2 separate regions of the Homo sapiens genome follow, and region 2 is linked to region 1. Evidence: fine-mapped expression QTL. Tissue or cell type: whole blood. Region 1 holds a variant in brackets; the other region holds the start of a gene. All regions are shown on one strand. Distances are between the middles of the regions.

Evidence for each region. PIP is the estimated chance that this variant, and not a neighbour inherited with it, causes the effect.
Region 2: MYEF2 starts here. The variant in region 1 is fine-mapped to the expression of MYEF2 in whole blood (INTERVAL, PIP 0.93).

The regions. Positions count from the first base shown.
Region 1 is chr15:48,358,288-48,366,396 of GRCh38, forward strand. No RefSeq gene overlaps it. Among named protein-coding and RNA genes, the nearest start is that of DUT-AS1, 30 kb to the left of the region's middle. The variant C/T (reference allele first, on the strand shown) is at 3,142.
Region 2 is chr15:48,173,525-48,181,633 of GRCh38, forward strand. MYEF2 (myelin expression factor 2) reads right to left here and starts at 4,771. Exons shown (of 17, transcript NM_016132.5): 1 at 4,553-4,771. The coding sequence starts at 4,713. It also overlaps a transcript of CTXN2 not described here. RefSeq lists silencers at 4,113-4,282, 4,313-4,742, 4,913-5,012 and an enhancer at 4,715-5,366.

The DNA.
Region 1 (8,109 bases):
TAGAGGCCTTAGGAAATAGTATCTAGCAACCACTAGATGTCACTTGATGTTTGCTTTTTTGTAAAAGGTAGTTTTTTTGTTTTGTTTTTGTTTTTTCATAGTTTATCTGCAATTATAAGTCTACAATTCTCAATGGGTCCAAGCTGGCAGAAAACAAAATGCTGCAATATTTGAGTGAAAGCAGGCAAAAGTCATTAGATGAGAACAATGATTTTAACTTTAAATAAGATTTGGGTGGTTGCAGGGTTTGTATAATCTCTCCTGGCATTTGTAAGGACCAGAGAAGCCAGCAGCTTTGCCCTCCTGCTGTGTTTAAACAAAAATGGAAAATTGTAATGAACAGCTAGATTTTTCCTATCTTTCATTTTTTTCTTCCTCCTCCTTCCCCATTTTTAGGAGAATGTGACTTTTAAAATGATTGCCCTTTAATGAGGTTACTTGCAGCATTTTAAGATCAATCCTTCTTTGTTCAAATTTCTACCCACAAATCAAAACTGTTTTAATCTTCATTATCTCAGTAAAGCGCATGTGACAAAAGTAAATGGAGAAGACGTCTAGAAATGTTGTGAGGGTTCTCTGGGGTTATCCACTTCCTGTATTTGCTAAAACTCTAATAATCAGTTCCAGTAGAGACCATGTATCCTGGGGTTTTGTTTTGTGTAACAGCTATTTGTTTATTTTTTTTAACTGTCATTGTATTTTGGCTTCATGATGGTTAAATGAGTCTCCGTATTAAGTAAACCTCTCTGACCCTGCCTATTTCCTGTCTTGTCAAACCTTTCCTTGTAAGAATAACAGTGTTCTTTTATTTGGTAGTGTGCAGCATGATGTTTTTGGCATGGCCAACATTTTTGACTTGCAAAAATTTGTGACCTCAAGTGTGAGAGAAGTGAATGCTTTTTTCGGTACCTCATGGGGTCTCAATCTTAAAAAGTATCTTACGAAAGAATTATCAGCATGTTTATTTCCCAAACATCACAAATAAACAAATAGAAATAGCTTTTTTTAATAAGCTACTAAAAATATTAAACCAATGAATACTTGGTGAACATTTTGCTGCTACTAAACTTACATAATTTCTCAAACTGGCCTAGCTATATGAAGACACAGAGCTTTTATCATGTTCTGTCTAGTAATTCATATTTTTGAAAACATATTTTCAAACCAAAACACATTGTATGTGAGTGGAGTATGGCTATTCCAAGTCACAGAATGGAAGAAATATCTTTGTTGCCTCATCCTTATATACCTAGGTCTATTTAGTTCTGAAATGGATTCTATAAGATAAGAACCATCAAAATCAAAAGTCTCAATCAAATGCACCTCCTTTTTTTAAGGTAGCTAGCCATTTGCTAGCATTTTTCTCTTATCTTTTGGTTTATTTTTCAATAATGTGGACATTATGAGAATAAAATCATGGTAAACATCTCTTGCATTTAAAGATTGACAACTGCTAAATATTAATTTTGAAATATTGATAACTAATTAGAATCTGAAGAAAATAGATTGTGTTGATTTGAAGGTGTCATGAATAAATTCTTATAATCACATAGCAGTAGTTCTGAAAGTCTTGGCTAACAAAAATCTAAATATCTGCAGCAAATGGAATTTGATAAAAGTACCACCAACTAGTAGTTTTTTGTTTTTTATCATTGGCTAGAAATATAGTTCTAATAAAGAGCCTGTGATGTATAGGCAGTAACAAAGAAAAAGCTGAGGACTAAAAAGATACATTCATCATTCTAGTATGGAATATTTTTTCTCAAAATGTCTGAAACACAGAACTATAAGCTTAATTTAAGATTTTCAGCCTGAGCAACATGGTGAAAACCCATCTCTACCAAAAATTAGCTGGGCATGATGGTGCATGCCTGTAGCCTATAGTCCCAGCCATTCAGGAGGTTGAGGTGGGAGGATCAATTGAGCCTAGGAGTTCGAGGCTGCAGTGCACCGAGATCACACCATTGCACTCCAACTTGGGTGACAGAATGAGATCCTGTCTCAAAAAAAAATATTTTTTCTTAGACCTGTCATTCAAACTTCCTTTAATTATTCATTGTCATTAAGTATTTCTTTTTCAGAGCCAAATCCAAGGAGACTTAAATTGTATTATCAAGATTTATTTCATTTATACCACACACATATAACACATATACTTTCCTATACTATAGTTTTCAAAACACTATTGTGTTGTCTTCCTTTTTAGAAAAAAAATACAGTAATACTTGAAATTGTATTAGCATTTTAACTAGCCCAGCACCTATTTTTTTCCACATGTGGTTTCCACTGGTGGTTTTCATAGGCCTCTAGAAGTTGTAGGTGTAGCCCCTTGTAGGTACAGATTGCCTTGTTTAAATAAAGGAATCATTTTTTCTTTAATAGAACCTAATTTTTTAAAAGCACATTTAAGTTGTGCAGTTGTGATTTGAAATAATAACAAAAAGTGATTACACCTAAAAGTTCTAAACTGGTACAATATTATCATGCCATTAGCTGTGATGGAGCTGAAAGCTGATAGAACTTACACTTGTATCTCATGACTCTGTTTCCTTTGAAGTAAGCACTGGTGGCTGACCGAGTTTAATGTCCCAGCTTTTTGGATCTCTAAGAGGATTACAGTGTGATTTTATAACCTGCCACAAATTCCTCTCTATGCAACTTACTATGTGCTATGTATGTGTTTTTAAAAAAATCAACTGGAGCATGTGCCTGTAGTCCCACCTACTTGGGAGGCTGACTCAGGAGAATCATTTGAGCCCAGGAGGCGGGAGGTTGCAGTGGGCTGAGATCACACCACTGTACTCCAGCCTATGGGACAGGGAGAGATTCCATCTTAAAAAAAAAAAAAAGAAAAAAAAAAGCAAAACAAAAACAACAACAGCAAAAAACCAATTGGAATCAAAATGTGTTTTCAAATGAGTCACTTTATTTTTTATTTCTTAGAGTTTTCTGAAAAATTTTTTTTTTTTTTGAGACAGTCTCACTCTTTTGCCCAGGCTAGAGTGCAGTGGTGTGATCTCTGCTCACTGCAAGCTCAGCCTCCCGGGTTCAAGCGATTCTCCTGCCTCAGCCTCCTGAGTAGCTGGGACTACAGGCGCCTGCCACCATGCCTGGCAAATTTTTTTGTACTTTTAGTAGAGA[C/T]GGAGTTTCACTGTATTAGCCAGGATGGTCTCGATCTCCTGACCTTGTGATCTGCCTGCCTTGGCCTCCCAAAGTGCTGGGATTACAGGCGTGAGCCACCGCACCTGGTCTTCTGAAATTTTAAAAATTGCTTCAGCATAGTGCTGAAATACTTTATGTATGTAATGTAGAAGTCAATACAACAATAAAAATATCAGTCCTCTCTCTACCCCTCTCCACTCTGAGTCTAAACACTTTCAACTGTTTGTGATTTACTTTCATGTTCCTAAATAATATGCAAGTGCAGTTATTTCATTTCGTTTCAAGTGTAGTCACTTTCTACTGGTTTTCTTCTGGGGCTGATGAGAATTTAGCTTTCTTACCATACCCCTCTGGCTGCATTCCTCCCATGCCCCCACTTTGTCCTTCCTCTCATCCTCCCAACATAATCGTCTAACAATATTCTGGCTAAATTTAAAGCTGAGTCATATAGTGTACTATGGTAACATGTTTATGTAACCTTTTGTGGGTTTCTTTTTTTCATTAGTAATAGCTTATTTTTTGTTGTTGCTTAGTTTTTTATGCTTATTAGGAATTTCTCCCTAAATTCTTTGGTAGAATTGTGATACTCCCTTGAATAGAGTTGGACTCTAAGATAATCTATCAGTTTCTTTTTCTTTTCATTTTTTTTCTTCTAGATGCTTCCCCACTTTAATTCCTTTGTCTCTAGCTCCTGTCACTCCTGACTACTCTGCAACTGCCATCCTGGAGCTCAGTCTTCATAGGAATCCCTTTCATCTGTGTCCTCCACGCAATTTCCTATTGCCTGTATCCCATGCTTTTCCAGTTTGGGTTTGTTCCTCACTTTGGTAAAGCACAATCTCCAGCAGCTGCTTTTTAAACATTTGAAAATTTTATTTTATTTATTTTTTTTTTTTTGAGATGGAGTTTTGCTCTTGTCACCCAGGCTGGAGTGCCGTGGTGCAATCTGGGCTCACTACAACTTCTGCCTCCTGGGTTCAAGTGATTCTCCTGCCTCAGCCTCCCAAGTAGCTGGGATTACAGGCACCCTCCACCATGCCTGGCTAATTTTTGTATTTTTAGTAGAGACGTGGTTTCACCATGGTGGCCACACTGGTCTCGAATTCCTGACCTCAGGTGATCTGTCCGCCTTGGCCTCCCAAGGTGCTGGGATTACAGGGGTGAGCCACCGCACCTGGCCTAAACATTTTTTTAAATTGAAGTGTACCAAACTGTTTGCTAAACTTAAATGCACTAACTTAAGTGCTCAGCCCAATGCATTTTTGTATACACAGACATTCACGTAACTGACATCCAGATCAAGATATTGAATAGTTCCCAAACTCTTCAAGGCTCCCTCATGCCTCTTCCCCATCAGTAACCTCTATCCTACCCCGTACCTTCAACACGGTCATCGCTACTCTGGCTTCTACCACCATCAATGAGTTTTGCCTGTTCTTGAACTTTATATAAAATCATCATACAGTATGTACTGTTTTGTGTTTGGTATTCTTGCATCATGCTTGGGAGAGTCATCCATGTTGTTGCATGTACCAGTTGTTTATTTTGTTGTTTGTTTTTGCTATTTTATGTGGTATGAATGTAAAGTATTTGGATATAATAAATAAAGCTGCTACAACCAGTCTGGTCCCTGTCTTTTGTTGCACGCATGCACTCATTTCTTTTGGGGAATATCACCTAGAGGTGGAATTGCTGGGTCATAGGGTAGCCATTAACTTCTTGAGAAATGGTACAGTTAGAAATATCTTTGATAGGTTATACATTAGGTTAGGCTAGACTATGCTGCAGAAAAAAATAAGCTTCATTTCTTTTTTTTTTATTATACTTTAAGTTTTAGGGTACATGTGCACAACGTGCAGGTTTGTTACATATGTATACATGTGCCATGTTGGTGTGCTGCACCCATTAACTAGTCATTAACATTAGGTATATCTCCTAATGACCCAGCCATCCCATTACTGGGTATATACTCAAAGGATTATAAATCATGCTGCTATAAAGACACATGCATACATATGTTTATTGTGGCACTATTCACAATAGCAAAGACTTGGAACGAACCTAAATGTCCAACAATGATAGACTAGATTAAGAAAATGTAGCTTCACTTCTTAATGGGTTAACATGTCAAGTCTTTTTCTGGGTCACACCAAGTTGGCTGGAAGTTGGGTAACTCTCCAGGGCAACTATCTTTCATGTGGTGATCCAGTAATGCAAACTGCTTCAATCTCGTGGCTCCACCATTTCAACATCAGACGTCTTCAGAAAGCGTGGAGTTCATACTCCTGTCTAACTATTTGGCCAGAAAGTCTATGTCACTTCTGTTCACAGCCATGATCAGAACGTGTGGCCCTGCCTAACTTGGAGAAGCCTGGGAAGTGTAGTCCTCTTTGCACCCAGGAAGGAAAGGGGAACCAGATATTGGGGAGCATAAATACTGTATACCACACTTTACATACCTGACAATACCTTGATTCTAATTTCACAGTGAAATGAGAGATTGGCCAGGGAGTAAAGCCTTGGTAGAAAGTAATTGTTTTCCTTGGGATCTTTAAGTCATTTCTACATTGCTTTTTAGCTTCTACTGTTACTGTTAAGAAGTCCAGTACATTTTGAATCAACTTTATGTGGAAACTATTTGTTTCTTTGGAGTTTTAAAGAGTTTTATTTTTTATTCCTAGTATTTTGAAATTTCACAATGACATACCTTGATATGGGTATTTTACTTTCTTATCTTTACTCATTGTGGTTTTTTTGTTTGTTTCTTTTGTACTGCCTTCTAAAAGATATTCTTAATTTTACCTGCCAATTCTTTGTGGATTTTTAAAAACATTTCTACTTTAACATTTTAATTTTTAAGAGATTTTTATAGCATCTTATTATCTAGGTGCAGGAACTCTTAAAGGAGGGTTTCTGAAGTCTTCTCTTGCATTGCCTCTTTTCTTCATGTTTTTGTTTTCTATTTATTTGTCATTGCTCTTGTTTTTAAAACCTGTCTCTCATATTGGAGAGTTTCCTAATGTATCTGGAGATCTTTGGCTGCCTACATTTAGGCGTCAGGGAATAAAATGTTGATTGGAAGCCCTGTGTGCTTTGGTAGGACTTGCAGACTGGTGGACTGCACTGTAGAATGATAGGCAGGAGCCAGGCACTTCGTTGGGTGACTGCCATGTCAGTATTAGTAGGTGTTTTCCTTAGGGTTGGTCACTTTCTCCAAAGAAGAACTTGCCAGTCTCCTCTGTAGGGAGCATAGGCTTTGATGTCTGTGTTCATGGAGCTGCATGAAGGTTTCCACGTGTCCCCCTTCAGTATGTGGACTTTCACTTAATCCTTCTGTTTCTGTCCAGCCTCTTACCCTACTCCCCAGTATCACTGAGTCCAGAACCCTGCTGGTTCAGCCTCTCCAGAGAGCAAACATCCTGCCTTCTACCAGGGAAGAGGAGAGACGCTCATCTGACTGGAGGCATGGTGAAGACTCTATAACTTACTTTTATAGACATTCAACAAAGTCTTTGCCTTTGGCTCCACCCATTCCTGTCATCTTCATCAACACCAAGAACTATCAATCCTGACCTTTCCTAAGTTCTTTAGAGCAACTTATCTTTCTTCTTCTTGGCTTCCTCTTAGGTTTTATTAGGCTTTTAGGTTTTGGTTGTTTTCCCCACTTTACTCAGTCAACAACTCCTCTCTTTTTGGCTTTCCATCTTCCAAAATACAATTGTCAACTTTTGTCTGATGTCTCCTCTACAGCTCTCTTTGTCCTTGGGAGTTTACACCTTTTTAAATCCCCTTACTGTCATTTTCAATAGGTTTCTCCAGAGAGTATATATAAATGTTTGTCTTTAATTTTCAATGTTTAATTTGAATCATAACTACTTTGTAAAGCCAGAATACCATCATGTGACTACTGTGGCTAAAATCTGTTCTTAGAACTTCAATCCTACAGCATGAGTTCTAACCCATAAGCATGCAAGATCTTTCACGATTTAACTCTTGGTAGCTTTTCTAACCTTAATAAAACAACCCAGACAAAGGATTTTGTTTTGTTTGCTATTTTTCAAATATTCCTACTCTTTCTTGTTTTCAAGGCTATGCATAGACTTTCCATTACATGGAATCTACTTGTCTTCTTCCTATGAAACACCTACTGATTCTTCATCTTTTCTATGAAGCATTCTTTGACTTCTCTAGATCAGAGTAAGTCTCTTCTTGTATGTTCATATAGCAAAAATAATAATAATTATAATAATAATAAAAAATATAAATATAAATATAAATATAAAATTTTTATTTTATAGTTATATTTTTATAATTTTATAATATAATTTTATAATATAAAATTTGATTTTTATTTTATAAAAATAAAAATATAATTATTATTATAATAAAAAATACTTCTTTAAAAACAACTATATTTTCCCAATCCCACAGTGGAGAATTTAGGTGTAGTATTTTGCAGTTCCACAATGGAGGACTGCTGCACAAAATATTGCCCTCAATGGCTACGATTGTGTCCTATTCTTCCTTGACTTTTCTAGCACTTAGCAAAGTGTCTGTCATATCTCAGCCATTCAGTATATATTTTATGAATGAATGAATATGGAAGATATAATCTGAGACCTCTTGGGTGCTGCAAAACAATTGCATCAAAAGGTAAAACCTTCACCCTGGAGCCAGGATTTCCAGGTCCTGATTTTTGCCTCAGTTGAGCTTGCAGGATATAACCTGGCATAACCCACTGTCACTTTTCTGCTCTTGAATTTACTCACTTGTGCAATAGGAATATCTCTCAGAATGTTATCTTCCCCTCCCCCCCTTTTTTTTTGACTCAAGAGTCTCAATTTGTTACCCAGGATAAAGTGCAATAGTACAATCATAGCTCATCGAAGCCTCTACCTCCTGTGCTCAAGTGATCCTCCCACCTCAGTCTCCTGGGTAGCTGAGACT
Region 2 (8,109 bases), 180 kb before region 1:
CAACCAAATTGGAGAGAAAGAAGTAAAATTAACTCTGTTTGCAGAAGATGTGATCTTATATAGAAAATTATTCAGAGAAAATTTTAAAGACAACACCAAAAAAACTATTAGAACAAATTCAGTAAAGTTATAGAATACAAAGTCAACATTCAAAAATCCACTGCATATCTACACACTAATAATAATGAACTATCCAAAAAATTAAGAACATAATCTCATTTAAAATAGCATCAGAAAGAATAAAATACCTAGAAATAAATTTAACCAAGAAAGCTAAAGAGCTATACACTGAAAAACGATCAAACAATGATAAAAGAAATTGAAAATAATACAAATGAAAGATATTCCATGTTCACAGATGAGAGGAATTAATATTGTCAAAATGTCCTTCCTACCCAAAATGACCTATAAATTCAATGTGATCTCTATCAAAATTCTAACAGCATTTTTCACAGAAACGGAAAAATTCCTGAAATCCGTATGAACCATAAAAGATCTCAAATGGCTAAAGCAAGCTTAAACAAGAAGAAAAAACTAAAAGTACCACACTACCTGATTCAAGTTATATTACAAATCTATAGTAATCAAAACAATATGGTACTGGTACAAAAACAGACACACAGACCAATGGAGCATAACAAACACTCAAAAACACATCCCCAATATATGGTAAACTAATCCTTGACAAAGGCACCAAAAATATACAATGGTGAAAGGACAGTCTCTTCAAAAAATGGTATTGGGAAAACTAGATATCCACATACAAAACAAAATGAAAATGGATTAAAAACTTATAACACCTAAAACCATGGAACTCCTAGAAGAAAACACAAGAGAAAAGCTCCATGACCTTGGCCTTGGCAATGATTTTTTTTTTTTTTGATATGACACCAAAAGCACAGACAACACAAACAAAAGTAAACAACTGGGACTACATCAAAGTAAAAAGTTATTGCACAGCAAAGGAAACTCAACAAAATAAAAAGGCAACCTAAGAAATGAGAGATAAAATTTGCAAACCATATATCCAATAAGGGATTAATATCAAAAATGTATAAGGAACCCATACAACTCAATAGCAACCCAATTTAAAAAATGAGAAAAGGATCCAAACAGATAATTTTTCCAAAGAAGACATACCAACGGCCAAAAGGTATATGAAAAGGTGCTCAATATCACTGTTCATCAGGGAAATACAACTCAAAACCAGACTGCAATATCACTTCATACCTGTTAGGATGACTTATCGAAAAGTCAAAAGATAGCAACTGTTGCTGAGGACGTGGAGAAAGAACCTTTAGATACTGCTGGTGGGAATATACATTGGTACAGCCATTATGGAAAACAGCATCAAGGGTCCACAAAAAATTAAAAACAGAACTACCACATGATTCATCAATGCCACTTCTGGGTATATATCCAATGAAAATGAAATCACTATCTCAAGGAGATATCTGCACTCCCATGTTCGCTGCATCATCCACAATACCCAAGATATGGAAACAACGACTTAAGTGTCCATTGACAGATAAATGATTAAAGGAAACATGATATATATTATATTTTATGTTTACACAACACATCCACACTGGAATATTATTATTCAGCCTTACAAAAAGAACAAAATCTTGCCATTTGCAACAACAGAGATAAACCTAGAGGACATTGGGCTATGTGAAAAAAGCCAGACTCAGAAAGACAAATGCTACATGATCTCACTTACACACAGACTTTTAAAAAAGTCAAACTCAGAAGCAGAGAGTAGAAGGGTGTTTACCAGAGGTGGAGGGCAGCAGGGGATGGGGAAATGTTCTAAGGGCACAAACTTTCAGTTATAAGATGAGTAAGTTCTGTAGATCTAAGGTACAGTATAGTGACTATACTTAACATATTTACTGTATACTTGAAATTTGCTTAAAGAATAGATCTTAAGTATTTTCAACACCAAAAAATATGGTAGCTATGCGAGGTAACAGATACGTTAATTAGCGTGATTGTGGTAATCATTTCACAATTTATTTGTATACCAAACCATCACACTGTACACTTCAAAATATACAATTTTTGTCAATTTACCTCAATAAAGCTGGGGGAAACAGTTCTAGTCTTTATTCCTAATAAAAATCACTCAGCTAAAGAACACATTACCTTGCTCCAATGCTTAATATTTTATAGTACCCTAATATAACTCTCAATCTCTACCTACTCCAAAGTTATACTTAATTACACATGAATAATAAAGTTATAATAATACTGCTCTTTTCCCTCCTATTCATTTTTAAGAAAAGGAGAGCTAGTATACCATTTGGCGTTAAAGAAGAAGACTACAGTTGGAAAACGGATCTTTTCTAAAGGTGTGAATATGCAAACTAAATTCCCTGTATATGAGTTTCATAAGCATGAAAGTTCACTTCTGCATTTCTTCCACAAATATTTACTAGGCCTTAAGAATACAAAGAAGAATAAGACATAGTGGTCTCCCACCCTCAATAACTATGGATTAACCTCAGCAAATATTATTTCAATCCTGATGACAAGCAGTACTCTGTTCAATTCCAACCAATACATAATTTGGGGCAATATTATGGTAATTTTTATAATCAACAATGAATTATTTTTATTATTAAAAGTATATGGTAATCAACTCAAGGTTTATGTATTGGGGTTGTTATCCACTCCTACTAGTTCACGAAGTAAAAAAAAAAAAAAAAAAAAAAAGGACTAGGTCGCTAGTTATTCAGTTTGAATGACTCATGCTGGACCATCACAAATCTTCTTATGGAATAGACAGTAAGAGAAATCCCTGAGAGTAAATTGGACTCGATTCAACTTCTGGGAAAAAGAGAAAGGGAGAGGCGAATTATAAGCAATATGGAAATAATCTGTATTTACTAGTAATATTTCTTCATTTCTTCACCTTATATTTTTCTCTTCCTAAATTAGAAAAGGATTCTTTCTCCACCTTTCTCCTTTCTCTTTTCCTGTCTTGCTAAATCATGAAGAGACTTTAGAAGGGAATAGAAAATCTGATGGAGGTTTAGATACCAAACTTCCCCTATATCAAAACTAATCATACCCAAGTATAGGAGGGCTTCTCTCTGTAATTCAAGGCTGCACTTTTTGTTCAGGAGAAAAGGTGGCATGTATACTCGTGTTTAGATATGAATAGCACATATTTTTAAGTTTATCATTCCACCGGTTTTCATTTCTATTTTTAATGCCAAATTCCAGAAAGCCCACATTTTGGCAAGCATGGTAGAAAGCACTTCATTCCCTTTCTGGTTCCTCAATTACTGAGGTGCACCACTCTTCATCCAGGAATAAACTCCACTAAGTTCCAATCTCTTATACCTGCACCTCTATTCTCCTAGAAGATGCTGCCGATCCTGTTCAAACTCATTTGAGAGCAAGAGTGTCAAAGAGCTGGGGAGAGCTACCCCATCTTTTTTGCCACCAACTTTTACACAGACTGGTCCAGTTCTTACCATACAATTTCAAACATGCTTATACAAAGGTCAGAAAGACCTTTCCCTTGTCTATTTTACTGTGAGCATATATCTATTGCTTTCTGCTCTGAGGCATAACAGAGAAGGAAAAGGATGTTTTCACTTAATTATTAACATACTTTCAACTTCAGGTTTAAGGAGGTAGGCATATGAAAGTAAGCGCTTAACTTCATATCCTCCCACAGGACAGGAACAAAGGAGAGCATAACATTTCCCTAGAACCAGAAATTATTATGGATTGGGGTCAACTAAATTCTTTATAGGCACTGGTGACAGCTGCGACCTTAAAAGTCTTCCTTCATTTGGGAAAAAAAAAATCTTAACCATCTATTATACCAAACTTAAGATAATCATACACTGAGTTAAAAAAAAAAATACTCTCCACAGCTGACGCACATTACCCAGTGGGAAGGGAAGCCACGCACATCGCACATTTCCCTTTTTAAAGTACGTCTAGCCAATTCAAGAGTAACACAAAACATAGAGTCTAACAGCACATTATTAAACTTCCTCTCGGTATAAATCAGTTTAAAAATGAACATACACTTTAGAAAACAACAAAACACTAAACTTGTGAAGCTCAGAAAGAAGCCAGGAATATTCCTTTTAAATATGTTCTCGGTGGTTAAGAGGAAATGTCCGATGATGTCATCCCTAGATACTCCCTAGTGATGAACACTAACTACTGGTCCTTAAAGGGGGACCATTTTCCTGCAAACCGTGGCGGTCGCTGAGCTTTGCTCAAAGATTCTTTAACCAAAGTCAGGGAAGAGGGGTGTTCGCTGTCTCGGGCTAGAAATCAGGGAAGAGCGCTGGTCCCCGGGCCCCCAGCCCCGGCTCCCAGACCACAGGCGGCCAGGCCTGGGGCGGGCGGGGAAGGGCCTGGGAGCGGCCCAGCTGCACCTGCTCCTCAGGAAGCCGATGGCCCGGGGGCGGGCCGGGGTCTGGGGGTGGTTGTCCCCCATCGGGGCACAGCCCGGCCTCTAGCCGCCCGGTAGACTCCCCGCCCCCCACCTCGCCCCGGTTCCCGGAGGAAAAGACAATACATTTTAACGCCATTGGAGCTGCTGCTGTGCTGCGGCTGCTGCTTCTCCGCCTCCGCGGGGTGCGGCTCTCGCCGCGGCTCGCCCGGCGGCTCTGCGGGCTGCAGGTGCGGGCTGTCGCCACCAGTGGCCCCGGGCACCTCGGCCTTGTTGGCGTCCGCCATCCCGCCGCCGCTGCCTCCGCCTCGGCCGCCTGAGCTGAGGGGCTCCGAGCGCGACAATGGCGGCTGCCGGGGAAGCGGTAACGGATCCCGATTTGAAAAGGCCCCGAGCGCTCAGTAACCCGGATCTCGCGAGAACCGGTCGAGACTGGGTGACTGGGAGATGGTGTGTGCCGGGTGCGGGGGGTGGGAGTGCGGGGGGAGGGGAGCCATGGGAGCTGGGGTCAGGGCCGCTGTTGCTGCAGTCGGCCCTACACCTGCCTGGGAGGGCTGGACCAGTCCTGAAAGCCCCCGGTGGTGGTGCCATGTCTGCCCACCAGCCCGCCTGTCGCTTGGCACCAGTGGAGTCTTCGCTTGCAAAGCGGGATTAGACATCAAAGCCCTAACACCCAGACTGTTCAATTCATTCCAGGTAGGGGCAGTTAAAGAACACACCACTTTGCATCTTTAAAGACTTCTTGCAAGTCCTCAGACTGCCTTTAGAAATCCTTTGAATTAAGCAAATATAAGTCTCTTGCCATTTCAATGCCTAGGCACCCTTCGGACATTCCATAAATAGTTATTGATGACTGATTGCAATTCACCAAAAGGAATGACTTTGAATTTCTTTGAGAATTATTTGTTCTTAGGGGGTGAGGATTTCCCAGGAACTCAACTATCAGCTTAGTAAGAGAAGACTGCAGTTTTTCTCTGGACATCAATCAATATGGGGAATCCATAATTATAAAATATCGTCTACTAGATGGGCTAATAATGGACATTTGAGGTTTTGACTGTGTGTTTATTGTATACTGATGGAAATTCTAGTGAAGTAGTTAGTTATACGCTCTCAAATTTAATTGCCATATGGAGTTTTAAAATACAGTCGTAGATTTTTCCCCCTAAGTATGAAAAGGAAACCGTTAAATTTAATCAACTCCTAATTCTCGAGTACTATAATCTTTCACATTGACATAACCTTTTTCAGCTGAAAAGTTTAAATGCCTTCCCAAATTTTTTTTCCATGAAGAAGCAAACACGTACAGTTTAGTCACTTTGCAGAATATCATACACACATCAGTGGTAAAGTTATAGTTAGAAAGTAATACTCAAATAACATAATTTCATCTTCGGCTTTTCAATGTGTAGTTTCCTACCCTCTACCGAAAAATACCAAGTTCAGCTACTTCATCACACACACACATACACACACACACATACACAAACACACACACACATAATCAGAACATTTTAATGATAAGAATGCTATTGTAGTTGCTGTATAAATTGTTTCTCATTCAACTCTGAGACATAAGATTTATAATCGCAGAAAGGGCATTCAATTGTGACAGACAAAATCTGGGTTAGAACCCCAGCTCTGCCTCTTTTTGCCCATAACTCCCTGGGCAAGTCACCTCATTTCTCAATCTCTCTACAATAAATAGGGATAGCAATACCGACCTTACAGGATTGAGGTGAGGATTAAAAGAAAGCACTTTATGTAGGAAAAAGTGCTATATGAACATAATGTAATATTACAATTCTCTATCTCCCTAAGCTCAGCAGGGTTTTAGTCAAAGACAAGCCAAGTGATTTTTCCCACAGCACTAAATTATAAGTACTTTCAAAATAGTCATCATTCTGTTATTCTTTTGCTATTGTTGAATTCAGTATGAAAATTGAACCCCACCATCACCAGTACAATATATTCTTGCAAAAATCCTTTAATCAACTCAATGCAAGATTTTTTTAAGAGGCCTTTATGCTTCAAACAGAGTAGTAGGTACATGAGGAATACAAAAATGAGTACAGCCCTGTTGGGAGAGGGCTAATGTAAAAAGTACTATTTAAGTGCTATAATACAAATAAAAGCAAAGTATAATTAAAAAATTATTTACAAAAACAGGAGACTGGCCCACATGCCTTAGTTTGCCAATTAAAATATTCCATTAAAATATTTATCTTGATTACTGAGTTTTAACTTTTGTACCCAAGACAAATGCCTCACCCGCTGTAGCTTGGTTCTAGTCCTGATAAAGAGCAGAGGTTAATTCCTACTGAGAGATTGGTGAGGGCCTTATAAAAGAGCTGGATCTTAAAAGACAAAGAATTAAGGCAACTTCTGAAGGGAAGAGAATGATTAATCTTTACCATTCCATCTGACTGCTCAATAGATTGATCTTTCCTTCCTTTCTTGCTATTAATTGCAAAAGATAAAGAAAAAACTATTAATATTCTGTTGCTGAATTCCATTTCTGTATTTGCTTGTCTTCCTCTCTACTGTTTTGGTTTGTTTTGTTTTGTTTTGTCTTTTTTGAGATGGAGTCTCGCTCTGTCACCCAGGCTGGAGTGCAGTGGCGCCATCTCTGCTCACTGCAAGCTCCACCTCCCGCGTTCATACCGTTCTCCTGCCTCAGCCTCCTGAGTAGCTGGGACTACAGGCGCCCGCCAGCAGGCCCGGCTAATTTTTTGTATTTTTAGTAGAAACAGGTTTCACCGTGTTAGCCAGGATGGTCTCCATCTCCTGACCCTGTGATCTGCCTGCCTTGGCCTCCCAAATTGCTGGGATTACAGGCGTGAGCCAGAGCGCCCGGCCTTGGTTTTTTGTTTTTTGTTTGTTTGTTTTTTAGTGCATGTAGGTACATTGAAAAATTCTTAAGTGATGCTCAAATTCTTATTTTCCCATGATTCACATTGCAAAAGCATTATCCTTTGCAATTGCACAAAATATATTACTGGTACAACTTCACATAATCACTTAGTTTTCTTTCTTACAAATTAGAATGCATGTTTATGTGTGTGTACCTGGCGGGATAGGGGAAAAGCTATTACACGTATCTAGAAATCTAATCCTAGAAATCACAAAATATTTTCAATTAATACCTTAATATATGTATCACTTAGGAATTGTGTTCATCTGCTAATAACAATAACTAGAAATAATAGTGTCTTAAGCAAGATATACATTTTTACTCTCTTAAGTAAAATAAATGCAGAAGGAGCATCCCAGAGGATATATAGTAGCTTCACAGTCATCGTGAAGTCAGGTTCCTGCTACCTTAATCTTTCGCCATCCTAGTGTGAGGCTTCCATTCTTAAGGTTGCCCTATGACCCAAGATGGCTGCTGGAGATCGAGGCACCTTGTCGGCATTGTAGGTCAGAAGGAGTCCAGAAAAAAAGGGACCTATCCAGAAGTCTCACACAACACTTCCGCTTATGGGCAAGAACTTAGTCACATGACACACTCATCTGTGGGGGAGGTTGGCAAATAATTTGGGGGCTGGGCTTACTGCCCAGGGTTCTGTTACCAATGAAGAAGAGAATGGATGTCATCATTCTTCTTTTTTTTAATTTATTTTGTCTTTAAGAATTAAGTTTTAGGGATAATAATAAAATTTAAAAGAAAAAGAAACTAGACA